Linked DNA regions of Homo sapiens. The protein of the gene in region 2 purifies or fractionates together with the protein of the main gene of each other region. This does not show direct contact. Each region holds a gene or a part of one and is shown on either strand. Other genes may lie near its edges. The genes, in order: ENTPD6, CLEC4C, BRF1, TBC1D22A, SLC25A30, ATP8B2 and PCSK9.

The links.
Region 1: the proteins of CLEC4C (region 2) and ENTPD6 purify together in Homo sapiens (co-immunoprecipitation; one large-scale study listed by IntAct). This does not show direct contact.
Region 3: the proteins of CLEC4C (region 2) and BRF1 purify together in Homo sapiens (affinity purification with mass spectrometry; one large-scale study listed by BioGRID and IntAct). This does not show direct contact.
Region 4: the proteins of CLEC4C (region 2) and TBC1D22A purify together in Homo sapiens (co-immunoprecipitation; one large-scale study listed by IntAct). This does not show direct contact.
Region 5: the proteins of CLEC4C (region 2) and SLC25A30 purify together in Homo sapiens (affinity purification with mass spectrometry; one large-scale study listed by BioGRID and IntAct). This does not show direct contact.
Region 6: the proteins of CLEC4C (region 2) and ATP8B2 purify together in Homo sapiens (affinity purification with mass spectrometry; one large-scale study listed by BioGRID and IntAct). This does not show direct contact.
Region 7: the proteins of CLEC4C (region 2) and PCSK9 purify together in Homo sapiens (affinity purification with mass spectrometry; one large-scale study listed by BioGRID and IntAct). This does not show direct contact.

The regions. Positions count from the first base shown.
Region 1 is NC_000020.11:25,194,483-25,198,511, reverse strand, and holds the start of ENTPD6 (ectonucleoside triphosphate diphosphohydrolase 6), read right to left. Parts: upstream 2,801-4,029; 5' UTR 2,648-2,800; coding exon of another isoform or gene 2,645-2,647; intron 2,540-2,644; exon of another isoform or gene 2,303-2,539; coding exon of another isoform or gene 2,258-2,302; intron 1,890-2,257; exon of another isoform or gene 1,620-1,889; intron 1,408-1,619; exon of another isoform or gene 1,286-1,407; intron 1-1,285. UniProt on the Homo sapiens protein: Catalyzes the hydrolysis of nucleoside triphosphates and diphosphates in a calcium- or magnesium-dependent manner.
Region 2 is NC_000012.12:7,744,576-7,748,827, forward strand, and holds the start of CLEC4C (C-type lectin domain family 4 member C), read right to left. Parts: upstream 2,801-4,252; 5' UTR 2,774-2,800; coding exon 2,743-2,773; intron 1,849-2,742; coding exon 1,756-1,848; intron 1-1,755. UniProt on the Homo sapiens protein: Lectin-type cell surface receptor which may play a role in antigen capturing by dendritic cells. Specifically recognizes non-sialylated galactose-terminated biantennary glycans containing the trisaccharide epitope Gal(beta1-3/4)GlcNAc(beta1-2)Man.
Region 3 is NC_000014.9:105,291,002-105,294,501, forward strand, and holds part of BRF1 (transcription factor IIIB 90 kDa subunit), read right to left. Parts: intron 1-3,500.
Region 4 is NC_000022.11:46,765,650-46,769,149, reverse strand, and holds part of TBC1D22A (TBC1 domain family member 22A), read right to left. Parts: intron 1,103-3,500; exon of another isoform or gene 973-1,102; intron 1-972. UniProt on the Homo sapiens protein: May act as a GTPase-activating protein for Rab family protein(s).
Region 5 is NC_000013.11:45,401,374-45,404,873, forward strand, and holds part of SLC25A30 (kidney mitochondrial carrier protein 1), read right to left. Parts: intron 3,040-3,500; coding exon 2,954-3,039; intron 998-2,953; coding exon 902-997; intron 1-901. UniProt on the Homo sapiens protein: Antiporter that transports inorganic anions (sulfate, sulfite, thiosulfate and phosphate) and, to a lesser extent, a variety of dicarboxylates (e.g. malonate, malate and citramalate) and, even more so, aspartate.
Region 6 is NC_000001.11:154,324,329-154,328,324, forward strand, and holds the start of ATP8B2 (phospholipid-transporting ATPase ID), read left to right. Parts: upstream 1-1,196; 5' UTR 1,197-1,374; intron 1,375-3,418; exon of another isoform or gene 3,419-3,533; intron 3,534-3,776; 5' UTR 3,777-3,813; coding exon 3,814-3,844; intron 3,845-3,996. Other genes in the region: AQP10 (aquaporin-10), read left to right, coding at 1-152. UniProt on the Homo sapiens protein: Catalytic component of P4-ATPase flippase complex, which catalyzes the hydrolysis of ATP coupled to the transport of phosphatidylcholine (PC) from the outer to the inner leaflet of the plasma membrane.
Region 7 is NC_000001.11:55,046,048-55,049,547, reverse strand, and holds part of PCSK9 (proprotein convertase subtilisin/kexin type 9 isoform 1 preproprotein), read right to left. Parts: intron 3,026-3,500; coding exon 2,902-3,025; intron 1-2,901.

The DNA.
Region 1 (4,029 bases), on a different chromosome or scaffold from region 2:
TCTTTATGTAATCAAGACTTTTTTTTTTTTGAGACAGAGTCTCACTCTCTCACCTATCACCTAGGCTGGAGTGAAGTAGCACAATCTCAGCTTACTGCAACCTCTGCCTCCCAGGTTAAGCAATTCTCCTGCCTCAGCCTCCCAAGTACCTGAGATTACAGGCATGCACCACCACGCCCAGCTAATTTTTGTATTTTTAGTACAGACGGTATTTCACCATGTTGGCCAGGCTGGTCTCGAACTCCTGACCTCAAATGATCTGCCCACCTCGGCCTCCCAAAGTGCTGAAATTACAGGTGTGAGACACCGCACCTGGCCCATAATCAAATCTTATCATGTCCTATGTTAGTCTAAGAACCATATTCTACATGATCAGATTCACAGGTGGTATATTAAATCTAGAGGCAAAGTTGCTCCTTATTTACTGTCTACCCATTTAAAAAAACCCTTTATGTGCCATGCCCTGTGTCCAGCACCCCACAAAGCCTGCCTCACAGCCCTGGGTTTCCCTAAGACAGCACCAAGGCCCTGGGAATGTGTGTAAACGGAACTGTCTGAGATTGCAGTCAGTGTGTGGTGGAGCACACAAGAGTCCCTGGCTTCAGTCCCCAAATTGAACGTGCTTTATCACGACTTTAGAGATCCAAAAAACACTCACATACATAGACATACCTTACATAGACATAATTACTGAAGTTACACACCAAGTTCAGGAAGACAAAAGCAAGAGTCCAACTAGAACACAGTACTGAGAGAGCACAGAACCAGGAACAGCCTTGCTCTTGCACAAGGGTGGGAAGAAGAGTTCTTATAATCATGTTCACCATCCCCTCTCCCCAAGGAACAGGTCATCTCCATGTACCTGTGTCCCAGATCTAAACAGCAATTTCATTCCACTAGGTTAAGGTGTTTGCCCATGGCTGAGACACCTGCCGGAGAGGAAATGGGGTTTCTGTGGGAACCACTAACACCACAGCGTGAATGTGTTGATCAGGTTCTCCCTGACAGACTCTTTGAGGAAAACAATGCCATCTCAGTCTGTTCTTTAAAGGAGAGACAGGGTGGGATGAGGCTGTAAGGAAGGTAGCGGGTGGGGACTGAGGGAAGGCAGGGGTAGGAAGTAGGGTGCACACAGGCAAACAGAGAGGTGTGGCTCCTGCTGAGGCCACCCTCCAGCAGGTGGAGGCAGGAGTCAGAGAAGAGAATCTGAGGGTAGAGCAGTGTTGTTGGTGGTAGGAGCTACCCTGTCCCCTGGTTGGCTTTCTAGATGGGGATGGCAGGTCACCTCTTGGAAATACAGGGGCCATCTGATGTGGATTGATGGCTGCCTAATCTGTTGGCCAGTTTCTTCAGGTTTTCAGTTCAAGTACACGGAAGGGTCATGAATGCAAATGCCTGCCATGCACGCTGTATCAAAAAATGAAGCACATTAGAAACTTCCACTCATCCTCCTGGTGGGTTTCAGTAGGTTTTTCTCTCCTTGGCAAAAACCGGTGCGTGAACCGCCCGTCAACACCACCTGCTGTTTCCTTTACACAGGAGGCGGTGGGAGGGGAGGCGCTTCCAGATCTCCTGACACAAAGGGCTGCCCACCTCCCTGGTCCTTTACCCGAACCTTCAGGAGGCAGACGACACACACACTAGCCAGCCACTCTCTCCAAGGCAAGGGGAGGGGGACAAAAAGCAATTTTGAGATTTGTACAGTGCTTGCCAGGTCCTTCAAAAATGACTACCGGCCGCCCATGGCTCTTGCACAGCGGGTGGGAGGAAGAGTCCTTGTAATCCACCTCTCCCAAGGAACTCCTGCGCGAGGTTTCAGATTCCCCGCCTGCAGGCTATGGCTGACTTCCCCGTATCCTGTGTGACGTGGGATGTGTGGCTTCGCGCAGGTAAGGCTGGAATACAGGTGCCTGGAGGGACACCCAGAGCTGCCCAGGCACTTCCCGGCGGCTGCTTCCTTTGCACTTTGCACTTACAGGTGCACTTATAATAAAAACACCCTCCCTTCCACGCTCCCCTGGGCCCTCCCATCTCTCCTTCCTCTTCCACGCTCTCCTGGCTGTTGAATGTTTTCCACTGAAGGAGTCTAGTCTGTCCACCTAGGGGGCTCTCCCTCCCTCGGTCCAGGGCATTCGCGGCTCACAGGTCAGCTCGGGCAGAACCGCCCTGACCACCTATGAGCTCCTCGGGACACCACCCCAATGCCAGGGTGAATCGTCCTTACACCCTCAGTCCTGTCCGAGCGGCCTGATCCTACCTGTTTCCCAGAAACTGCTACGCGAAGCTTCCCCGCCGGGCTCATCCAGGGCGGAGGGGTCTGTCCCTGACGCAGACTGGGGGCGGGTCCGCAAAAGCGGGCTGAATGAATGAACGCAGCAGGGCTGGGGCCCCCTGGGGCTACAGGCCCCTGCTATTTGGCCCGCCCTGTGGCCCAAAACACTGGACTTGCCCCCCACCGGTCAGCGGAGCCCAGACATCCAGGGAGCCCTAATGGAGCCTGGACAGGAAGGCAGCAGGAGGTGGGACCCGGGGTGCGAGTGACCCCGAGGCCGTCCTCCGGAGCGCAGCGCGCCCGCGTGGGGGAGGCCCGCCTACAGTCGGTGATCCCCGGCCGCCCCCGCCAGCGCCCCGGCCCGCCGCTTACCATGCACCGCGCGCTCCGCCACACCCACGGAGACGAGTGCCCTTTTCCGGGGAGCAGGCGGCAGCCGGTCTTTTGGGCTCCCCCGCCCCGGCCGGCGCCACCCCGGCCTCCACCCGCGGGATACGACCCCACGATTCCCTAGGGCCTGGGCTCCGCCCCATGCACGTGGCGTCACAGGCTGGGCGGGGGGGCGCACCCAGCCGCGCATGCGCAGGCGGGAGAGGAGGTGGGGGTCGGGGGACCCAGTTGCGCAGGCGCGGGCGGAGTATGGGTGCTCAGCTGCGTAGGCGCGATGGCCTTCTTTTCTTTCTGCAGGTGGCCTTGCGGTTTTCTCCAGTCCACAGCCGGGCTGGCGTCGGCCCAGAGAGGGGGGCTCGGCAGTCTGGTTCCCCGAGCGTCTCATGGCGGGCCCTCGCCAGATTCAAGGGGTTCCCTTGGCCAGTTTCCTTACGGCGCGGCGGAGCTGGCCCTCGTCGTCCCTGGTAGGGGGCAGCCTCACAGCCTGGACCGGCCTGTGCAATTTCCCCCATCCCTCCACGTCTACATTTTATTTTTTTCTTTTTCTTTTTTTAGGACAATGCATGATGGAAATGCAGCCACATCATAGCAGGCAGGTTCATGAAATCTGCCCTCCTCCCACCGTTTCTTGACCCCATTTTCTTATTTTTTTTTTTAACAGGTTCTCACCCAGGCTGGAGTGCAGTGATGTGGTCTCAGCTCACTGCAACCTCTGCCTCCCGGGTTCAAGCGATTCTGTTGCCTCAGCTTCCTGAGTAGCTGGGATTACAGGTGTGCGCCACCACGCCTGGCTAATTTTTGTACCTTTAGTAGTGACGAGGTTTCGCCCTGTTGGTCAGGCTGGTCTCGAACTCCTGACCTAAGGTGATCCGCCTGCCTCGGCCTCCCAAAGTGCTGGGTCTATAGGCATAAGCCACCACACCCGGCCCTTGACCCCATTTTCTGTCTTCCTAGAAATCACCAAGGTTGCAACTCCTGACTGTCCTGGCTCACAGGCTCCAGCTTACTTAAGGACCCCACGGTGGGGGCTGCCCACTTGCACACCTATGCTAGGCGCCCTCATTCCCGCAAGGGCCAGAGCCCCTTCCCGGCCCATGGCGTCTGGCCAAGGAGGTGTGGGTGCGCCCCAGCCAGGCCTGGTCCTAGAGGACGGCCCCACCTGCGCACTGGGGCATCTGGGAGAGCTATTAGTGGAAGAAGCCCAGGTTCCTGAAGCACCAAGTGGGCAAGAGTTTATTTTCAGGATGGGACGCTTTTGAGGGTGAATAAGTGCTAGCTGTATGGGATGCGGGGACAGTACACAGGCCCGGCCTGGCAGCCGGGCAATGCGGTGCCTGTTGGAAGGTCGCCCACAAGCACCTGGTTGG
Region 2 (4,252 bases):
ACTTTGTTTATTTTTCCATTGTATCACTGTATAAACATTTATTTTTATTTTTATTTTTTGAGACAGGGTCTCTCTGTCGCCCAGGCTGGATTGCAGTGGTACGATTATGGCTCACTGCAGCCTCAACTTCCTGGGCTCAAGCGATCCTCCTGCCTCAACCTCCTGAGTAGCTGGGACCACAGGCACATGCCACCATGCCAAGTTATATTTTTTATTTTTTATGGAGACAGGGTCTCATTCTGTTGCCCAGGCTGGTCTTGAACTCCTGTCCTCAAGCGATCCTCCCACCTGAGCCTCCCAAAGTGCTCACAGGTGTGAGCCACTGCCTGGCCATATGAACAATTTTTCCTGTCATGTTGGGAAGAATCTCACATGAAGATTAAAACCCCACAGTAATACAATTATAGCATCATAGAAAGAATAATAGTTATGTTCCCAATAGAGACTTTTTTAAAACAAAGGAGCAGATCAACTAGATGGTACCCACCATCAGCACACCCATCAAAGTGGAGTTATTGTTATAGAATGAATTGCGTCCTCCCCAAGTTCATATATGGAAGTCCCAAGCTCCAATTTGTGGTATTTGAAGATAGGGGCTTTGGGAGGAAATCAGGTTTAGATGAGGTTATGAGGGGGGGCTCTCATGGTGAGATGAATGCTCTTATAAGAAGAAACCGTGACGAGCTAGCACTCCCTCCATCATGTGAGGACACAGCAAGAGGGCATCAGCTGTAAGCCAGGAAGAGGGACCTCACCATACCCAACCATCCTGACATCCTCATGTCAGACTTCCAGCCTCCAGAACCATCAGAAAATAAATATCTGTTTTTTAACTCACTCAGTCTATGCTTTTTTTTTTTTTTTTTTTTTTTTTTGAGACAGAGTCTCACTCTGTCACCCAGGCTGGAGTGCAGTGGCGTGATCTCGGCTCACTGCAACCTCTGCCTCCTGGGTTCAACTGAGTCTCCTGCCTCAGCCTCCCAAGTAGCTGGGATTACAGGCGCGAGTCACTGCACCCAGCTAATTTTTGTATTTTTAGTAGAGACAGGGTTTCACTATATGGTCCAAGCTGGTCTTGAACTCCTGACCTCAGGTGATCTGCCTGCCTTGGCCTCCCGAAGTGCTGGGATTACAGGCATGAGCTACCACGCCTGGCCCAGTCTATGGTATTTTGTTATGGCAGCCCAAGCTGACCAAGACAGTTATGATCACATTTGAAAAATGCAACTAAAACCAGGCAAAGAAACCTGGAAGTACACACAATTATCCAGAATAATTAATAATAGTAATAACTCATTTTATTAGAAACATAGCCTTCTCAGTTAGGGTTGCCATTTTATGTCAAGAAAGGGGAACGTGGCCGGGCGCGGTGGCTCACACCTGTAATCCCAGCACTTTGGGAGGCCAAGGTGGGCGGATCACGAGGTCAGGAGATCGAAACCACCCTGGCTAACACAGTGAAAACCCGTCTCTACTAAAAATACAAAAAATTAGCCAGGCATGGTGGCGGGCACCTGTAGTCCCAGCTACTCGGGAGGCTGAGGCAGGCGAATGGCATGAACCCGGGAGGTGAGCTTGCAGTGAGCCGAGATCACGCCACTGCACTCCATCCTGGGCGACAGAGCGAGATTCCGTCTCAAAAAAAAAAAAAAAAAAAAGAAAAAAAAAGAAAGAGGAACGTGTTTCTTCAGGAAATTGATAAAATGTGATTGGGAAAAGGACCAAGAGATGACTGCACTCCAGCCAAGAACTTACCCACAGAACTCACAGTGAAACAGACACTGAGGAGCAAGATGGATACGACTGCCATGGACCAGACCTTCAACTGGAACCACCAGAGTCCTTTCTCTGTCAGATCAGCATGACAAATGCACAGTCATAATCCCCACTGCCAAAGAGCCAGGAAACCAGAGTCCCAAAAATCTTAGAATAATAAAGTCAGGCTATGATCAAAACTAATTAAAACAGAAAAAATGTGAAAGCAAAAAGAGATTATAGAAATTATCTCAGAACAAATGACCAGATAGTACCCTGGAACCCAAGACAAATCCAGGCAAAACTCTCAGAGTAAACTGTACTTTCCAATTCCTTACTCTCTTTTCCCTTGAATTGCACAGCCTTGGCCTCAAACTTCCAGGCTTAAGTGGTCCTCCTGCCTCAACCTCTGAGTAGCTGGGACTTTAGGCATTTGCCTGCATGCCTGGCCAAATTCATATTCCTTTAAGGCCTTCTAGGCCCGAGTTGTTTTTCTTTTTTTCTTTTTTTTGAGATGGAGTTTCACTCCTGTTGCCCAGGCTGGAGTGCAATGGCACGATCTCGGCTCACTGCAACCTCCGCCTCCCAGGTTCAAGTGATTCTCCTGCCTCAGCCTCCCAAGTAGCTGGGATTACAGGCATGTGCCACCACGCCTGGCTAATTTTCTATTTTTAGTAGAGACAGGGTTTCTCCATGTTGGTCAGGCTGGTCTCGAACTCCTGACCTCAGGTGCTCTGCCCACCTCGGCCTCCCAAAGTGCTGGATTACAGGCGTGAGCCACCGCGCCCGCCCGGCCTTTCTTTTTTTCTTTCATCTTTCCCTGATCCAAGTATCTTGGGTCCATACCTGTTTCCATACTGAAATTACTATTATTTATGAAAAGCTGTCTACTTCTTCTTCCAAAGTCATCCCTATCACCTCAATGCCTGTTTCCCACTCCATCCTGCTCCTACTACCTTCCCTAGAACTGAGAAGATGAGTGCTTACCTCGGTCTTGAGGCTCTTCTTCAGGCACCATTGTGTGTGCGCACACCCTTTGGACTTCCTCTATCAGGTGGGTGCAGAAGCTCTTGTATCACTTTCTCCAAAGATGTTACTTTCGGGGTGTGGTTCTTTCAAACAAGCCAAGCCCTTAGATCCTTCTTCGCCTACTCTTGCAAAGGAAGAGATGTGACTTAGGAGACTCTGCAGTGAGCTAAAGCTTTCAATTTAAAACATACATCATGTTCAGAAATAAGGAAACACAAACAAGGAAATCGAGAAATACATGAAAAACAGTTCATGGTTGCAGGTCTGATTGTCTTTTTTTTTTTTTTTTTTTTTTTTTTCTAGACAGGGTCTCACTCTGCCACCCAGGCTGGAGTATAGTGGTGCAATCTCAGCTCACTACTACCTCTGCCTCGCGGGTTCAAGCGATTCTCCTGCCTCAGCCTCCCGAGCAGCTGGGACTACAGGCATGTGCCACCATGCCCAGCTAATTTTTGTATTTTTAGTAGTGACAGGGTTTCATCATACTGGCCAGGCTTGTCTCGAACTCCTGACCTCCTGCCGTTGCACTCCAGCCTGGGCAACAAGAGCAAAACTCCATCTCCAAAAAAAAAAAAAAAAAAGCCTCTTTCATTTGTAAATTGCCCAGTCTCAGGTATGTCTTTATCAGCAGTATGAAAACGGACTAATACAGCCTCCCAAAGTCCTGGGGTTACCGTTGTGAGCCACCACGTGCCCGGCCACTGCTGAGTAATCTTAAATAGAGAAAATCCATTATAGCCTATGCTACTCAAATGGAGATGTTTGGTTGAAGGATGGTTACAACTACTGGTGAAATAGACACTGAGAAAGAAAGAACCTAGGTATTCCAGAATCTTCCCAGAGTTCAACTGAGATTTAATTGTAGAGTAGTGAGAAAAAAGTTTTGAGCTGGGCACGGTGGCTCATGCCTATAATCCCAGCACTTTGGGAAGCTGAGGTGGGCGGATCACGAGGTCAAGAGATCGAGACCATCCTGGCCAACATGGTGAAACCCCGTTTCTACTAAAAATACAAAAATTAGCCAGGTGTGGTGGTGCATGCCTGTAGTCCCAGCTACTCAGGAGGCTGAGGCAGGAAAATTGCTTGAACCCGGGAGGCGGAGCTTACAGTGAGCCGAGATCGTGCCACTGCACTCCACCCTGGGTGACAGAGCAAGACTCAGTCTCAAAAAAAAAAAAGTTTTGAGTTAGCAGCCATCCTTTGAGATATTTTAGGACCCAGACCAATGAGATCCTTTCTAAGCTGTATACTTGCTGAAACAACTTAAAGTCCTGTTTGGTCTCTTGTCTACCTCCCATTTACAGTTCCCTGAACCTCCCTCTGCCCCTGCCTCAGGGGTTCTCCCTGTTGCTTTCCTCTGTCTTGGATTAAAATGTAGAGTATGAGGGTATTCCTTTGAGTATACAATGCTGAGAAGAAAGGAGCAAAGGCAAAAATGAGAAAAATAATTTAAAATAGAACAAATTAT
Region 3 (3,500 bases), on a different chromosome or scaffold from region 2:
GAAACTGCCAGGATGCCCTCTACTTCTAAAAACATTTGGTATTTTCCATAGCGTGTTTCTATAACAAAAAATATGTGCTAGTTCCCGTTAGCTGGAACTGACATGTGGAAGGGGCCAGGTCTTGTGGGGCCTGGCCAAGACTGCCCCCCTGTGTACAGCAAGGGAGGACCTGCGGTTCCACCAGAGCCAGAGCAGGGCCAGAGGCCGCAGGGGCACCTCTGAGCTCCGACAAAGCCAGCAACACCCCATACCGCCGAACAGACAGAAAGGCGGGCCAGGGGCCCTCCATGTCCTGAAAGACCCAGCACAGCACTGTCCATTTCACACCAGGATTCTTCCAACATGAGAAAGCAATAACCTTTAATATTCACGTGCTCATTCAACTTAACTGGGGGCGGGCTCAGTGGCTCATGACAGTAATCTCGGCATTTTGGGAGGCCGATGTGGGTGGGTCACTTGAGGTCAGAAGTTCAAGACCAGCCTGGCCAACAGGGCGAAACCCCGTCTCTACTAAAACATACAAAAAAAAAATTAGCCAGGCATGGTGGTGTGCTCCTGTAGTCCCAGCTACTCGGGAGGCTGAGGCAGGAGAACTGCTTGAACCCAGGAGATGGAGGTTGCAGTGAGCCAAGACTCTGTCAAAAAAAAATTTTTTTTTAACTGGAGACTTTCTGTTGCTGCTGTGAAACTTCCTTTTTTTAAGAGACAGGGTCTGGCCGGGCGTGGTGGCTCACGCCTGTAATCCCAGCACCTTCGGAGGCCAAGGCGGGTGGATCACCTGAGGTCAGGAGTTTGAGACCAGCCTGGCCAACATGGCGAAACCCCGTCTCTACTAAAAACACAAAAATTAGCCGGGCATGGTGGCACATGCCTGTAATACCAGCTACTTGGGAGGCTGAGGCAGGAAAATCGCTTGAACCCGGGAGGCGGAGGCTGCAGTGAGATGAGATTGCGCCATTGCACTCCAGCCTGGGCAACAAGAGAGACACTCCATCTCAAAAAGAAAAAAAAAGAAGTCTCACTCTGTCACCCAGGCTAAAGCGCAGGGGCACCATCACGGCTCACTGCAGCCTCAACCTCTCGGACTCAAGGAATCCTCCCACCTCAGCCTCCCAAATAGGCGGGACCACAGACATGCGCCACCACGCCTAGCTAATGTTTTCTTATTTTTTGTTTTCTTTGTTTGTTTTTTTGAAGACAAGACAGAGTTTCGCTCCTGTCGCCCAGGCTGGAGTGTAATGGCACGATCTTGGCTCACTGCAACCTCCACCTCCCGGGTTCAAGCGATTCTCATGCCTCAGTCTCCCAAGTAGCTGGGATTACAGGCGCCCACCACCATGCCCAGCTAATTTTTGTATTTTGGGGTTTTTTCTTGTTTTGTTTTTTTAGTTTTTGTAGAGACAGTTTCACTATGTTGCCCACGCTGGTCTCAAACTCTTGACCTCAAGTGATCCTCCCACCTTGGTTTCCCAAAATCCTGGGATTACAAGCATGAGCTACCAAACCTGACTGGAAACTTCTTTTAAGGGGAGACACCTGTAGGAGGCCTGGCTGGCTGGGCAGTAATGGATGGAGAGGAATTCAGGGGTCCCACAGGTGAGTGCCCAAAGGAGGCTGGACCAGACCGCAGTGCATCCCTGAGAGCTGGGGACGGGGACCCGGGAACACAGAGCGTGTGCCTACTGGTGGGGCTGGATGCAGTAGCATCAGACATCTGGGAGGAGCACTGACAAACAGGGCCAAGCACGGCAGCCCACACCCCTTCCCAGGCGCAGACCCTTCCCATGCGCACACCCCTTCCCAGGCACAGACCCTTCCCAGGAGCAACCCTTTCCCAGGCCCACACCCCTTCCCCAGGCCCACATCCCCTCCCCAGGTCCAGACCCCTTCCCAAGCCCAGGCCCCTTCCCCAGGCCACTGCGGAGGAGCTGGTTTTGTAGTGATTACAATTTGGTTACGGAAAACAGGACGTGTGTCACGCTGCAGGCTAACCAGCAGCTTCCTCCCTCACCCAGATGGCAACGGGACAGAATTCACCCGTTTCCTAAGAGCAGGCACCTTCAGCCACAACTTAGGGTTCTGGGGGTCATGGAGCAGAGGCAGAAGCCTGGAGCCTTCCACCCTCAGGACTAGAGCCCCGCCAGGAGGCCAGGCGCATGCTCAGAACCCCAGGCCGCAGGGAGAGGCTGGCCGGTCACATCCTTCTCTGAGGCAGAGGGAGCTTCCCAGCAGGCGAGGGCAACTCCACCACCCATGTCCCCCTCCAGGGCCAGCGCCAGGTGACATGCAGCCATGTCACAAATTAGGTCCGGCTGCATCGTGACCCCAAACGGAAAACAGCAGCACTCACGGACACCCCAGCTTCGAAGTTCTAACTGTGAAGCCACTGAAAGTTGTGATTACGGGAAACGCTCCCCACCCCCACAAGTTCTGGTGACACTGAGGTGTGCTGCTCCTTGCACAGGACGAGGAGGGACCCCTGCAAGCAGGAGCCCAGGATGTCTGGTGTGTGGGCGCCATCACCATCACCTGCTGGCAGAGGGAAGCCTCAGGGCACACACAGTGCAGGACACTGATGTGGGCTCACAGGGAAGCCCCGCCTTGCCTCAGTGGAGCAGACGGCCTCCTCAGGGCACTGCCAACGGCCCCCAACTCCACCGTCTGCCTGGCCCCTCCAGCCACGCTGAGCCTCAGTCCTCACCCACCCTTCTCTCTGCACAGTCTCTGCTCGGGTGCCCCGGGACGCTGGAGCACCAGTGTGGTTTCCCCCGTGGGGCCTGGCTTCCAAGGTCAGGACCCTCTGGGGACTCTCCTGAGGCCTCTGGTCACCTGCCCTGATGCCTTAGTTAAATATTCCAGAGTAAACTGCGAAGCTGTATCAGGCTTAGTTCTCAATTAATAGGCAAAACACCTAGGAAAGACAGTGGCCTTGGGACTAGAAAACGACAGCTCAGAGAGAAAGCTCAGCTTTCAAGATGAAGCTGGAGGAAGGGGCGGCTGGGGCCTACTTGTGTGCCAGGGAAACTGAGAAGCCACCAAGGTTTCCAGCCCCCTGTGATCACCACTGTGACGAGGGAGGAAGGATGCCAAGTGGGCACCTAGAGAGCCTGCCTGGGAGACAGAGGGGCTGCCCAGAGCAACAGATCCCCTCTCTCCTCCCCACTCTCGGCCCAGGCACCACCTGCGCCGGTCCCCAGGGGCTAAGAACCCGCCGCCTCGCAGCACTTCCCCCAGGACCACCACAGTTGGTTGCTGGGCCTGCGCCTCCCTCCAGAGAGTGTGCCTGGGCTCAGAGGCGTCTTGGGGCCACCTGACAGCGCTGGCTCTGAGCTTGTTCTGACAGCACCCGGGTGACAGACTTCCAGCTCTGCACTGCTCCACACCACCATCCTCCCCCGGCAGGGCACAGTGAGGGCAGTGCGCTGTCACCAGGCCCGGATGCACTTAACACTGTGCCTGCCCGGGAAACCCTGCGTCTGCTGCCATGACAACTTGCTTTC
Region 4 (3,500 bases), on a different chromosome or scaffold from region 2:
AATTTGGGCCTTTCTTGCTACCATAACACTTTCTTTTTTTTTTTTTTTTTTTTTTTGAGACAGAGTCTTGCCCTGTCGCCCAGGCTAGAGTGCAGTGACGCGATCTCAGCTCACTGCAACCTCCACCTCCCAGATTCAAATGATTCTCCTGCTTCAGCCTCCTGAGTAGCTGGGATTATAGATGCCTGCCACAATGTCCAGCTATTTTTTGTATTTTTAGTAGAGACGGGGTTTCACCATGTTGGTCAGGCTGGTCTCGAACTGCTGACCTCAGGTGATCCACCCGCCTGGGCCCCCCAAAGTGCTGAGATGACAGGCATGAGCCAGAGCGCCCAGCCACCACCATGCCACTTTCAAACGTCATACTCCACATACCCCAGCTGCCTGCATACCCTCTGTCAGCAGACCACACCCTGCCAGGCGGAGCTGAGCTAAAATAGCAAACATCAGACCCACACTGAAAGACTGCCTGTGTTCTCAAGCCCAGTGTGCTGTGATTTTGTCTTGGCATTTTTAAAGTGAAGTGTGGCGAGAATTCCAACTGCAACTGCGGAAAGCAACAGCCCTTCGGGAGCCAAGAGAGTCAGCGGCCCGGGAAAGAACCAGCCCAGACAGTCAGAGACTGAACCTTCAGATTCTATTTTTTTTTTTTTTTTTTTTTTTTTGAGACAGAGTCTCGCTCTGTTGCCCAGGCTGCGGGGCGGTGGCGCGACCTTGGCTCACTGCAACCTCTGCCTCCTGTGTTCAAGCGACTCTCCTGCCTCAGCCTCCCAAGCAGCTGGGATTACAGGCGCCTGCCACCACGCCTGGCTAACTTTTGTATTTTTAGTAGAGACGGGGTTTCACCATGTTGGCCAGGCTGGTCTCAAACTCCTGACCTCAAGTGATCCACCCACCTCAGCCTCCCAAAGTGCTGGGATTACCGGCGTGAGCCACCGCGCCCGGCCAAACCTTCGGATTCTTATCACTTACCATTTCTTGCCACCACCACAGCTTCCACTCAGGTGCAAGCCGCCACCACCAGTGACCACTGGACGCTGCGGCACCCTGGCCTCCTGGTCTCCCTGCTTCTGCCCTTGCCCCGACTCCCAACGCCTCCAATCTGTCTTCAGTACAGCAGCCAAAGATATCCCATTAAACCTAATGCAGACCATGCCACTTCTCTGCTCAAAGCCCTCCAAAGGTTCCCCATTCAGCCAGAATCAAAGAACAGTCCATGTCTTCACTGTGGTCATGAGGCCCTACCCCACCACCTTTCATGACGCACCCCACGACTCTCCCCTTCTCTCGGCCAGACCCACCCTGGCCCCAGCTCCTCTCCTCAAGCACGCCAGCATCGCTCTGGGAGTCCTCTGCACCTGCTCACTCCTCTGCCAGGACCGCTCTTCCCCAGCCTCCTGGTTGGCCTGTTCCCTCACCTCGTGCAAATCTTTCCTCAAATGTCACCTCAGTGAAGGGCTCCTTCTCACCACCACACCTGCCACTAAGCCACCTAGTCCTCTTTCCCAGCATTGTTTTGATAGCAGCTGTCACCTTCCAACAGTTAACTCCATTTAACTGAGCTATGTTATTTATACCCGGCTCTCCCACTGCACTGTAAGCTCTGGGAGAGCAGAGATCTAGGTCTATTTTGTTCACTAATATTATCTCCAGCACCTGGGGCTGTTCCTAACACATACTATGGGTTGAATACATATTTGCTGGATCAGCAAATCATCAAATTCTCAAAACTGGTCCAAGAAGCCCATTCTTTTCTCCTCAAAGAGAATCGTGCTAAGCCAAAGATATCTCCCCATTTGCCATAGCTACTTAAACCAAACTCAACCGCTTTGTGCTACAGATACAGACACTGATGGCCCCAGAGGTAACTTGGTGAAGACCACTACCGGAAAAAGAAAGTTAAAATCTGGACCACCAACTCCTAGTCCTCTGACTAGGAGGGTCTATCTACCACACCACACATCCTGGCTCATCCAGAAACAAAGTTTCTAGGAAAGCGTCAGCCACATATGCAACCTAAGGACCAGGGTGTGCATAAACCGAGGGTCTACCAGCAAGACCACCTCTCCTGCAGTTTATAGCCCTGGCCAAACCACTCACTCTCCAGGCTAATCGAGGAGATAGTTCGGAATAAACACCAGGTATCGGTACTGACAATGCAAGAATGAGAAAGATACTTTTCCTAAACCTGTGGATCTCACTAGTGAAAGCAAGCACATACCAGGGAGAACAGGAAGCCAGAGGCACCAACAACACTGAGTTTGATGCAAAAAAGGGGGACTTTAGTTCAGGCTGCATAAAAACAGGAGGTGTGGGCCGGGCACGGTGGCTCATGCCTGGAATCTCAGCACTTGGGGAGGCCAAGGCGGGCGGATCATGAGGTCAAGAGATCGAGACCATCCACACCAACATGTTGAAACCACATCTCTACTAAAAATACAAAAAAATTAGCTGGGCATGGTGGTGGGCGCCTGTAATCCCAGTTACTTTGGCAGCAGAGGCAGGAAGATCACTTGAACCCGGGAGGCAGTGATTGCAGTGAGTCTAGATCACACCACTGCACTCCAGTCTGGGCGACAGAGCGAGACTCCATCTCAAAAATAAAAAAGAGTTGAACTATCTGAAAGATCCCTTACTAGTCTTGTATTGTACAGTGGGTGTAGTCTTCCTCCTGAGTTTCCTTGAGATGAGGGCTGCACTCAAAAACAAAGAGGAAAACAAGGCTGGGTGTGGTGGCTCACGCCTGTAATCCCAGAACTTTGGGAGGCTGAAGCTGGTGGATCACATGATCAGGAGTTCAAGACCAGCCTGGCCAACATGGTGAAACCCCATCTCTACTAAAAATACAAAAATTGCCGGGCACAGTGGCTCAAGCCTGTAATCCCAGCACGTTGGGAGACCGAGGCAGGAGGATCACAAGGTCAGGAGATCGAGACTATCCTGGCTAGCACGGTGAAACCCCGTCTCTACCAAAAATATAAAAAATTAGCCAGGTGTGGTGGCAGGCGCCTGTAGTCCCAGCTACTCGGGAGGCTGAGGCAGGAAAATGGCGTGAACCCGGGAGGCGGAGCTTGCAGTGAGCCGAGATCGCACCACTGCACTCCAGCCTGGACAACAGAGTGAGACTCCGTCTCAAAAAAAATACACACACACACACACACACACACACACACACACACACACACACACACATAAATTAGCTGGGCGTGGTGGCCAGTGCCTATAATCCCATCTACTCAGGAGGCTGAGGCAGGAGAACTGCTTCAACCGGGACCCAGGAGGTGGAGGTAGCAGTGAGCTGAGATCATGCCACTGCACTCCAGCCTGGACTACAGAGAGAGACTCTTGTCTCAGAAAAAAAAAAAAAAAAAGGAGGAAAACAAGGCCAGGCATGGAGGCTCACGCCTATAATCCCAGCACTTTGGGAGGCTGAGGTGGATGGATCACCTGAGGTCAGGAGTTCGAGACTAGCCTGGCCGACATGGCGAAACCCCATCTCT
Region 5 (3,500 bases), on a different chromosome or scaffold from region 2:
TCAAAAACTCTGAAGTCTAATTCTGATGCTGGCATTAACTATATGACCTTGGGCCAGACTTTGGCCAGGACAAGTCACCTCTCAGAGCCTCCAGTTTCCTTCTATGAACTGAGAGATCACACTGGATGATCTTTAGGGGCTATTCTATGAACTGACAAGTCATTAGAATACTAGGAAATAACACTCTACACCACATGCTTGCCTAATAACACAGACTTCAGTTACAAGCCATGAAATTGTATGGATCAAAACACCCAATGGAACTGTAACCTAAAATCCTTCTCCATAAGAATTTAAAAAAAAAAAAAGAGCAAAAGACCAAACAACAACAAAAAAAGTGCTTATCCTTCACACAATATCTTATACATAAATTATTCAAAAGCAACTTTAAAAATCATGACATAGGCCAGGCGCAATGCCTCACAACTGTAATCCCGGCACTTTGGGAGGCCGAGGCAGGCAGATCACCTGAGGTCAGGAGTTCGAGACCAGCCTGACCAACATGGTGAAACCCCATCTCTACTAAAAATACAAAAATTAGCGGGGTGTGGTGGCGCACGCCTGTAATCCCAGTTACTCAGGAGGCTGAGGCAGGAGAATCACTTGAACTCAGGAGGTGGAGGTTGCAGTGAGCCAAGATCGTGCCATTGCACTCCAGCCTGAGCAACAGGGCAAGACTCCATCTCAAAAAAAAAAAAAAAAAAAAAAATCATGACATATTCCTTATATTCCCATTTTATAGATAGGGAAATAAAGAAAGATATTTTCATGGGCAGAAGATGCCACTCCTCTTCCCTTACTCCATTACGACACTTGGATTAAAATTAAGTGATAGAACAAGTAAATTCAAAAAAGGAAAAAAGAACTAAATAAATCAGTTCGATCCATCCTTCTGGCTTACCTTCCACAGTCCTCTTGTCCCCTCTTGCTGGTAAATGTTCATGAAGTTGCCTATCATTCCTCCTTGAATGGTGTTGCTTTGCGCTTGCATCCGAATCTAGAGATTATTTTAAAGACCAACATCAGAAAGAAACTACCACAATCCCACCCACAACCAATGTATACCTCTGACAGTCAGTCCGTCAGTCAGTTGCTTAATAACCATTAGCAAGGAAAAAACTGTCATATAAATACTGCTATGATGCTACCTTAAAATGACTAAAACGTATAAAAATTTATTCTTAGGAACTCTGAGATCTCCAAAAAGCATCTAAGAGAGTCCAGAGTCCTACGTACAGCAGTTCATTAAATGTCAAAAGGAGAAACTGATTTTTGTGAAAAAAGTCTTTCTAGGATAGAAAACAGCATACTTCCCTACTACTATATAGGTGAGAGAAAAGTTAATTTCAAAGGTTTAATCTAATTAATGAGTTATCCAGTGTACCTGGCAGCACGAAGCACAGGCAAGCATAGTTCTTAAATTAGCTGCTCCAAGCCACTACAGTCTCCAGCCAGCTGAACCAAAAGGTATGCAGGCGAGCTAGCCAAGTGACAGCCACATGATACCTGTTACACTCTGTTACACTTTAATTAGTGGAATCCACATGACCAAGATTCCAACATAAAAAGAATGTTTGATGTAGCTCTTTGCATTTTTAAGAATGAAGAAAGATTTTTTACTACAAAATGTGTACCTTATTTTTGTTTAGGGAGCAAATACGTTACCACTAACTTCTAAAAGAACTGTTATTGCCACACGAACGTGGGAAAATAAACCAAGATACAGGAACTGCCTTCCCATAAGGCCTAAGATATAATTAAGAAATTAATGAGAGTACGAATATTTTTCTCTAGCTCTCTTACCCCAACACTGGTAAACTTATGGCAAAGGTACCTTGTATTTCTTCCTTACCCACGAGGTCCCTTTGCTACAATGCATATATAACTGTAGTGTACCCAGAATACTGCAGATGGCTGTAATGCTTGTCAGAATCCCCTATTAGATTGAAGGCTCTCTGAGGGCAGGGTCCTTGTCTTACTCATATTTGGATTCTAACCATGGCGTATACCAACTGGTACAAGATAGAAGCATAGAATACTAGTTAAATAGTGGGGCAGAAAAAGAAAAGAGGGGAAGTAGGAAAGGAATACTCTGTGGGGTTCAAAAAGTAAGTCATTCCTAATTTTTATTTTATTTAATTAGTTGCTTCCAAAAAAGGATTTAAAGATGCTCTATCCCTAGTATTTTCAATAAGGTCTCCTAATGTGTTATGTAATCTAATTGTAGTAATTAAATTTTTTCATCTGTATTTCCTGAAATAAAATTTAACAAAGAAGATGCAGGCCAGGCACGGTGGCTCACACCTGTAATCCCAGCACTTTGGGAGGCCAAGGCGGGTGGATCATGAGGTCAGGAGTTCAAGACCAGCCTGGCCAAGATGGTGAAACCCCATCTCTACTAAAAATACAAAAATTAGCTAGGCACGGTGGCAGGTGCCTGTAATCCCAGCTACTCAGGAGGCTAAGGCAGGAGAATCGCTTGAACCCAGCAGGGTGGAGGTTGCAGTGAGTTGACATCGTGCCACTGCACTCCAGCCTGGGCGACAGAGTGAGACTCCATCTCAAAAAAAAAAAAAAAAAAGATGGATTCAAAAATAGTCATTAATGAGCAGCCTAGATCTGTGCAAAACTTGCAGTCCATCTATATTTAATGAACCAATAAAACAAGGAACATTTTCCGTGAAAAACGAAAATGAAATGCAGTCCAAGCCTAAATAATTTTTTCTCCTCAATCACCGAAATCTTTGTCTCCAAAATGAGCTCTGCTTTTGAGCTCATCTGTATAAGTGGAAAACCCACCTCATGGACCTTTAAAAGTTAGTCTTCATGGCACTTAAATTATAAACAGATTCACATATACACAGATGTTACATTCACAGATTCCATTACCCGAATGTTGTTCTCAATAAGAAAATGTGGAATGTGCCTATAAGATATAGATAGCACAGCTTACTTTCAAAACATCAGTTGGATTAGCAATGGTTGAAGATATGACTCCAGACAGAATTCCACATATCACATTTATCGGTAGAGTTTCATCTGTAAACAATGACACATTATTTGACTCTACATATTTAGAGTTCTTCCCGTGAGAAACTCAACTATAGGTCTAACTTATTTACACATTACTTGTTCACCTTAAGATGTAAAAACATATGCTTCAGGCCGGGCATGGTAGCTCACATCTGTAATCCCAGCACTTTGGGATACCAAGGTGGGGAGATCACTTGAGGTCAGGAGTTTGAGACCAGCCTGGCCAACATGGTGAAACCCCGTCTCTACTAAAAATACAAAAATTAGCTGGACATGGTGGCAGCTGCCTGTAATCCCAGCTACTTGGAGGCTGAGGCAGGAGAATCACTTGAACACAGAAGGTGCAGGTTGCAGTGAACCAAGACCACGCCACTGTACTCCAGCCTGGGCAACAGACCAAGACGCCATCTCAAAAAAATAAAAGTATGTTTCATGAATCAAGTAATTTTAAAAGGATTAGAAATTTC
Region 6 (3,996 bases), on a different chromosome or scaffold from region 2:
GGGCCACCGTTGGCACAGCCACTTACCAGCTGTTGGTGGCTCTGCACCACCCTGAGGGCCCAGAGCCAGCTCAGGATCTGGTGTCTGCTCAACACAAAGCCTCAGAGTTGGAAACTCCTGCCTCAGCTCAGATGCTGGAGTGTAAGCTATGATTAGGACAACCCTCACTTCACTCATGGACCCTGGAGCCAGCCACTGACCCCGCCTGGGAACAACAGTCATTCTTCCTCTTTGTTAATGTGCCAGAACCTGGGAGGCTTCTCTGTTTATCTGTTTGGCATCCCTTCCTCCTAAACTAAGAAGGATCCTGGACAGGGAGAAGTGGAGGAGGATAAGGTACCAGGACTCAGGCTTCTCATCCCCTCCTCCCGCAAAGCGGTTTTCTGACCCTCAGGGCCTCTCGGAATGTAGTTGCTCGAGGTAACCGCTAGAGGGTGCGCACCTGGATGCTGGATGGGGACGGCTGCGGGCATCTGCAGGGTGGAGGGGGCCACCATCCAGTGTAGGGCACAACCCTGGGGACTGCCCTCCATAGCCTGTCCCGACTGCCGACTCCTAGCTCTCATCGCCTCGGCGCCTCCCACCTTCACCCTCTCGGGGATGCCTCCCCAAGAGGGTAGTTAGGGGTGGGGAAGCCGCCTCCACCCAGGGGGCGTGGTGGGGGCGGAGGGAAGGAGGGCGGCGGGGCACAGAGACAGAGAGCAAGGCTGTGAAACTGAGGCACCGTTCCTAGACATCTCGGTGCTGTGTCGTTCATTCAAGGAGAGTTGAGATACAGTGAAATGAGCCAGGGCGAGGAGGGAGGGTGAAGGAACGGAGGGCGGGCGGCTCCGAGGAGCGAGAGTCGGGCTGAGGGCAACCTGGCGCCAGGGAAAATTCTGGTTATTCACCACTTCTACAGCTCTCCTGCCGCTCCCTGCAGAGGATGCTCGTTTTGCAGAGAAGGCAGTGTTCCTCTATTCCCTTCTTCCGAATTAAAAATACCCCCTCAGAGCGATCTAGCCTCCCGAATTGTTTTTTCTTTTAAGATGCGGATGGACGTACGTGTGGGGGCATCCCAGCCCAGCCACGCCGAGGCTCGGAAGGGCTAAGACCCTCCCACTGCCCCGCACAAAGATGGCTGCTCCCTCCTCCCCGCTCCTTCTCCCCTCCCCAAAACCCCCTCCCGCCCCCCGGCCCCCGCCGCCGGCTCCGTCACTTCCGCCCCGCCGTGGCCGAAACTGACACAAAGTAGCGGGCCGAGGCCCCGGGGGAGCGGGGCCGCAGCTGGGGGGGCGGGAGCCCGTGGGGAGCCGAGCCGAGCGCCCCCCGCCCCAGCCCCCGGCATGGGCAGTACGGGGCCGCCGGGGCGGGCGCCGAGCGCTGAGCGCTGAGGTGAGGCGAGGCGAGGCGAAGCGGGGGCGCCCGGGAGCGCGGGGCCAGGAGGGCAGAGGGAGATGCGGCCGCAGCCGCGGGGCTGGAGGGGCCGGGGAGCGGGTGTAGACTGGGGAGCACCGGGGGCCAAGATTTGGGAGCTGCGGCCAGACGGGGCGGGGATGGCGGCCGACTGGAGACGAGGGGCTGTCGGGTTCCCGGGGACGGGGCAGAGCGGGGGTCTGCGTACAGGATGGGAGGATGGGGTGCCGAAGGGGCGCGTGGAGAGCAGGAGAGCGGCGCGAGTGCCAAGGAGAAGCTCGTGCAGCCTTGGCCAGGGGAGACCCGCCCAGAGAGTTGTTGGGCGAGAGGAGTAACCGGGACCCGAGGGTTTGGTGCCTGGAGAAGGGAGTTTGGGCTGGTAGGCTTTGTCTCAGTAAGGTGGAGGTCTATGCCTGAGGAAAACTGAGGGTGTCAGGAAGGGGCAGTAGCTCTGGGAGATGATAGCTGTGCCGGGAGCCCTGAGTTCTGTCCTTGGTGAGGGAAGGTGGCCCGAGCTCGTGTTGGTGGCCAGTGAGCTGGAGGTCTCGAGTTCCATTTCCTCCTGTTTCCCTGACCTGCCATCCTCCTCTGAAAGAAGTGGCCAGCCTTTGGGGCTCTTGCTTGTAAGGGAGCAGGGACCGGACCTATAGGAGGAGCTGTTTTCCTCCATGGAGCATTGCCTGCTTGCCGGGGCTGGCTATTTTTATCCCAAATGTGGCCGAGAGGGGGCTGGGGCTGGGTGACGGGGCAGGGCAACGTGGCTGATGGGCCTGACCTGCTCAGAAAACCCAGGCTGTGTGAGACTAAGAAGGAAAAGTGAGAGGGGATCCCAGTTCCCAGGTCTCTCCTCTCTTCCCCTTGGAATGATGGCCCCCCCAGAGGGGATGAGGTCTGGGGCCAAGCCTGCTTCCAGTCTCCCCAGGGTCTCAGAGGTAGAACAACTTTCCTGGTCCATATCCAGACTCCTGACTCCTGATGGCGTGTGCAGCTCCTACATTAACTCTTTCATGGGACTCAAACTCAGATGTTTAGGCTGATAGTGTTTCTTGATCCCTTCCTCCCCAAGGGCGGGGCTGCCTGTAGAACTTGTGATGCCCACTCTTGCATCCTTTAACCTCTCCCTGTGCTCCCCACCCTCCCGTGACTCATACTCAGACTGGGTGGAGACCCTGGCTGGGGGCCCTGGAGGAGGGCTTGGCATCTCTAAAATATGGATGAGGTTTTTCTTCCTGAGCCAGGCACCCTGGACTGCCATAGTTGGAGAAGGTCAGGGATGAAAAGGACTTCTGGCTTTCAGGATTGCCTGACTTGGTGTAAGGGCGGGATCTGAGCTAGCGAAGGGAGAACTGGTGTGGGTGACTGGGTTGTGGCCAGAATCTGTAATTATAGAGCTTAGCCAGACAGGCAATTAGTATCTCTTGGGGCTGACAGGTTGGTGGGGTGTGCCTGGTAGGCTAAAGGCAGAGGGAACCAAAGAGGATGAGGAGGTGAAAGGCCTTCCACCCAGACAAGGAAAGAGGAGGTGACTGACTGGCAGTTTCCTTTGGGCCAGGCTGGGGAGTAAGGATGAGGCTCTGCCTTGTAAGGCCAGGCCTTGAACCTTTTAGGAGAAAGGACATGGGAAGGCGGAAGCAGGCAGAGGCTTGTCTCACTGGTGCTCCCTAAGCCTGCACCCTGTGCCATACTGACTGGACTAGGCTTGGGGTGGGAGGGAGGGAGGGGCAAACTCCCCACCAGGGTTGGGAAGACCCCTCTGCCAGCCCAGAAGGGTGGCTGACCCAGGCTGAGGGGAAGCTGTTTAGGGACTGTCTGTGCAGAAAGTGAGGGCCATGCCTCTAATGTGAGCTCCCCTGGAGGAGGTGATAATGGAAGCCCTAGTAATGGGGGGTGGGGATGGCAGGGAACTTATAAGCCTTTCGAGAAGGGTGGAGCCTGCCCACCCTGTTTCCTGATGCCCTGCCAGGTGTTTCCTGGCTCATGTTCCCTCCACCCCACCCTTTGGGGAAACTGCTTTCTAGTAAGCACAAGCACTACTCATTGCCGCCAGAACACATGAGAGCCTCCATTGTCCCTGGGATGGATACCTTGAGAGCTGTTCCCCTTTTTTCAATATCTGGCCTCTTCTCCTTTCCCTACAGGCATGGGCTTCTGTAAAGTCTCAGCCCCCCATGTCACCCAAGGCAGGGGCATGATGGGAGGTGGTGGGGAAGTCCCCTCTTTCCCAGGAACCCATCATGGCAGTAAGAGGAGAGACTGGGAGAAGGAGGCTGGGGGAGGGGCAGGGTCAGAGCTGGAGAAGAGGGTCTTCAAAAGAGGTCTCATGAGGGGAGGGAAGGGTTATCCTCAGCTTCCTGACCTCATTCGTCTGTCACTTCTTGCAGGGTCTCCCATGGGATTGCTGGGATCTTGCTGGGTGAGATGGCAGTGTGTGCAAAAAAGCGCCCCCCAGGTAAGACAGGCAAGGAGGGGAGATCCCGGGAACCATCAAGAGTGGGTGTTGTTATGGCTCAGGGAGCAAAAGGAAAAGGGACAACTGGTATGGGTCTGAGGGAGGGTAGCTTACAGCAGCCCCTACCCAGCTTGGGGGCAGCCTAGGAAACC
Region 7 (3,500 bases), on a different chromosome or scaffold from region 2:
GTGACAGCGTGGCAAGGTGGCCTCAAGAAGAGCCACCACTCTCAGGGGCAAAGAGGCCTTGGAGTGGCCTCTTCCAGCCTCTGGAAAGCTCTGTGGCCTCTGGCAGGTGAGAGCCCAGTCCTGCTTGCATACCTCCAGAGCAGGGAGCTCATTCCCTCTCACCAGGCAGCCCTGCCATACGCCTGAGAAGCTCAGACTGTGGCCAAGTTCTTCCTTTCACATCTGACCTGGAGGCCACCCAGGCCCTCCTGGTCTCACCAGCCTCGGTCCCTTCTGCACAGGCCACACTCCCTCCTGCCTCACAGCTTCAATCCACGTTCATTCCACTGCTTGGACACCGTCCCCTTTGCCTGGTTAATAATGCCCCCGTAGGTCTTGGCTAGAACAGCGCTTCCTCCAGGAATCCTTTCCTGATCCTTCTGCTGGATACACAGGCTCGCAGCTGCCTGCACTCCTTCAGAGCTCTCAGCCTATCCAGAACTAATCTGTGTCAAGTAGCATTTGTTTAAGGAATGGATTAATCTTCTGGATACACTGTTGGGGGAAGAGACCACATTCATTTCATTCACATTTGTATCCCCAGCACCTAATATGGTGCCTGGCGCACAGTGGGTGCTCAAAACGTTATTATTGAATGGTAAGAAAAGAAAAATGCAGGGCTAAAATCACAGCACCTCACTCAATACCTGACAGAGAAATGCATGCTACAGCAATAACTGATTTAACCCTCCAAACAGCCCCCCAGAGTGAGGGTTATCATTACCTCCCTTTTGCAGAGGAACCTGAAGATCAGAGAGGGTGAGTGACGTATGCAAGGTCACACAGTTAAGAGTGCAGGGTCTGGGTTTGAGGGCGGCAGCCAGCTCTAGGGCCCATGCTTGTGGCCTCCCCATGAATGAAGAAGCTGCTGCTGGGCCCAGCCAGCCTGCCCCATGCCAGCCCAACAGCTCCAGGAGGACTTCCTCCAGCCAAGCCCTTGATATGACTCCAGAAGGGGTTCCACACCCCTGCCTGCCATTCCTGCCACCTCCCACAGACACTCGGGGGAAGCGGGAAGGGGGGCAATCCATGGGCATCCTATGGGGAAGAAAGGGCCCCACGTCTGCTTCTGGCCCAAGGGAGAGGAGGGAACAGTGGCTGCCAAAGAGATACACTCACATCCTAACCCCCACAACCTGTGGCTGTGACCTTATTTGGAAAAAGGGTCCTTGCAGATGTGGTTAAGGTTCCCCACATGAGATCATCCTGGAGGATCCAGTGGGCCCTAAATCCAATGACAAGTGTCCTTATGAGACAATGAAGAGGAGAGAGACACAGAGAAGGCTGTGTGAAGACAGAGGCTGGGATTGGTGTGCTGCCGCTGTTGGGACACGGAAGAGGCAAGAGAAGCTTCTCCCTGGAGCCCCCCGGGAGAAAGTGGTCCTGCCGACACTGATTCAGGCTTCTGGCCTCCAGGACTGCAGAGAATCAACTTGTTCCAACCGAGGGGGTGGTAATTTGTCACAGCAGTGCTAGGAAACTAACTTAGGGGGCAAGATCTTCTCAGTCCCTGCCTGGACTGGGGTCTCTGTGATCCTCTGCCAGTGTCCCTCTTGGTCTCTGATATTAGCCTGCTCCGGGAGGTCCCTGAGGCACTGATGTGGAGTACAGGGGGCTCCAGGGCTCCACTGAAGAGGTCTCACCTGGTTGGAAAGGAACAGGCTCTTCCTACAGAGGAGCTGTCCTCTCCCTGGCCACAGGCTGCCCAGGCCGGGTCAGCACACATGACCGACCAGGCCCCTCACTTCTGCTGCTGCCACCCTTGCCAGAGGATGTCCCCCACACAAACCCTTTCTCCACACCCAGCCCACCAGCTCTGATCTGTTGCAATGGCAGCAACTCAGACATATGCAAGGTCACACAGTTTGGGTGTATGCAAAGTCACACAGTAGCCCCCCAACTTTTCACTTCCAAAAGCATCTGCACATCCTTCAACTCATTGGAGTCTCACAGCAACCTGTGAGAAGGACAGGGACAGGGTTATGTGCCCATTTTACAGACAAGAACGACAAAGCTCATAGAAGAAAGTGGCTTCCCAAGATCCCACGAGAACCGGTAAGGGGTGAAAGCTGAGTTCACCCCAAGCTCTGCGTCCTGGCACCATGTTGCATGGACCCACCACATTGCATCATCTCTGCGCTGAGCTCCAGACCTCACACCATGGGCACCTCAAACTTAACACAGTCCAACTAGAACCCTTCATTCTCTCCTCAGGCCAGGTGCATCTAGAGTCTTCCCCGACTGAATTGCCACCTGCAAGTCCCTGCTAGAATGCAGACCGTTTTCCATGGCCGCTCCTCCTCCCTCCCTTCCATAGCCAGGCCACACCAGGCAGAGGGAACAGTGGAAAGAAAGGCCTAGAGGGAAGACACAAAGTGGCCCAGGCAGGGAGCCCCAGGAAGCCAAACGGAGCTGGAGGCAGGTGGAGCAGCAAAACAGGAAGGTAGGCAGAGGCATCCCAGACAGGGTTGTGTCTATCCCATTAAAGGATCTGGTCCAGTCTGCAGGGCACTGGGAGTTATAGAGGCCTGGGGGCCCTAGGTAGAGTCACCATCAGATGAACCCTCCTTCCAAGGTAAGTGCAGCCTGCTGGGCCATTCCAAATGGTGAGAAAAGGAAAACAAGAGAAAAGAAGGAAAAGAGGATCATTTAAGGCAAGACTTTTGCATTTGTGGGGCAACAGGAAGGCAGGCAGTGGGGGCTGCAGGGGATGGGGATGGGACAGAAAAAAAGGGGTCAGTGGAGGTGCTGAGTCCCAAAGCCCCCCGAGAAGTGGAAACCACCAGCAGGGAGGCCAGGCCAGGGCAGAGCAAATGGATTCAGCTCAGATGGGGTGGGGCAGGGCACAGATGGGGGTCTTACCGGGGGGCTGGTATTCATCCGCCCGGTACCGTGGAGGGGTAATCCGCTCCAGGTTCCACGGGATGCTCTGGGCAAAGACAGAGGAGTCCTCCTCGATGTAGTCGACATGGGGCAACTTCAAGGCCTGCAGAAGCCAGAGAGGCCGGGGGACTCTGCTTAAGCCATTTGGACAGCAGCAAACACAGCCACAGCCTGGCCTTACCTGATCAAACCTGTCCCCACATCCCAGCCCAGCAGCCTCCCACCTTGTCCCTGCTAGTGCCCCGGAGGACAGACTAGGAGCCTGAGTTTTCTCGCTCCTTGATCAGGCTGGGAGCCCAGCACTCCCATATCCCTGCAACACGGTCTGGCATAGAGGATTCCTTTTAGGAAGGATTCTGAACTTGACATCTTGTCTGGGAGCCAGGCTGTGCCAAGGCTCTGGGCAGGATGGACATGGAGTGAAGCTCAGGCCCTGGACTCCATGCCTAAATCATGACATAACAGCACTGGCAATTCGGTTTGTCCCCTAGTCTATTCTCCAGCCTTCTCCAGCCTGCTCAGTGCAAACTGCAGCACCAGCTCCCTTGCAAAGCTTCCAGTTGGGCTCAGCCAATGGG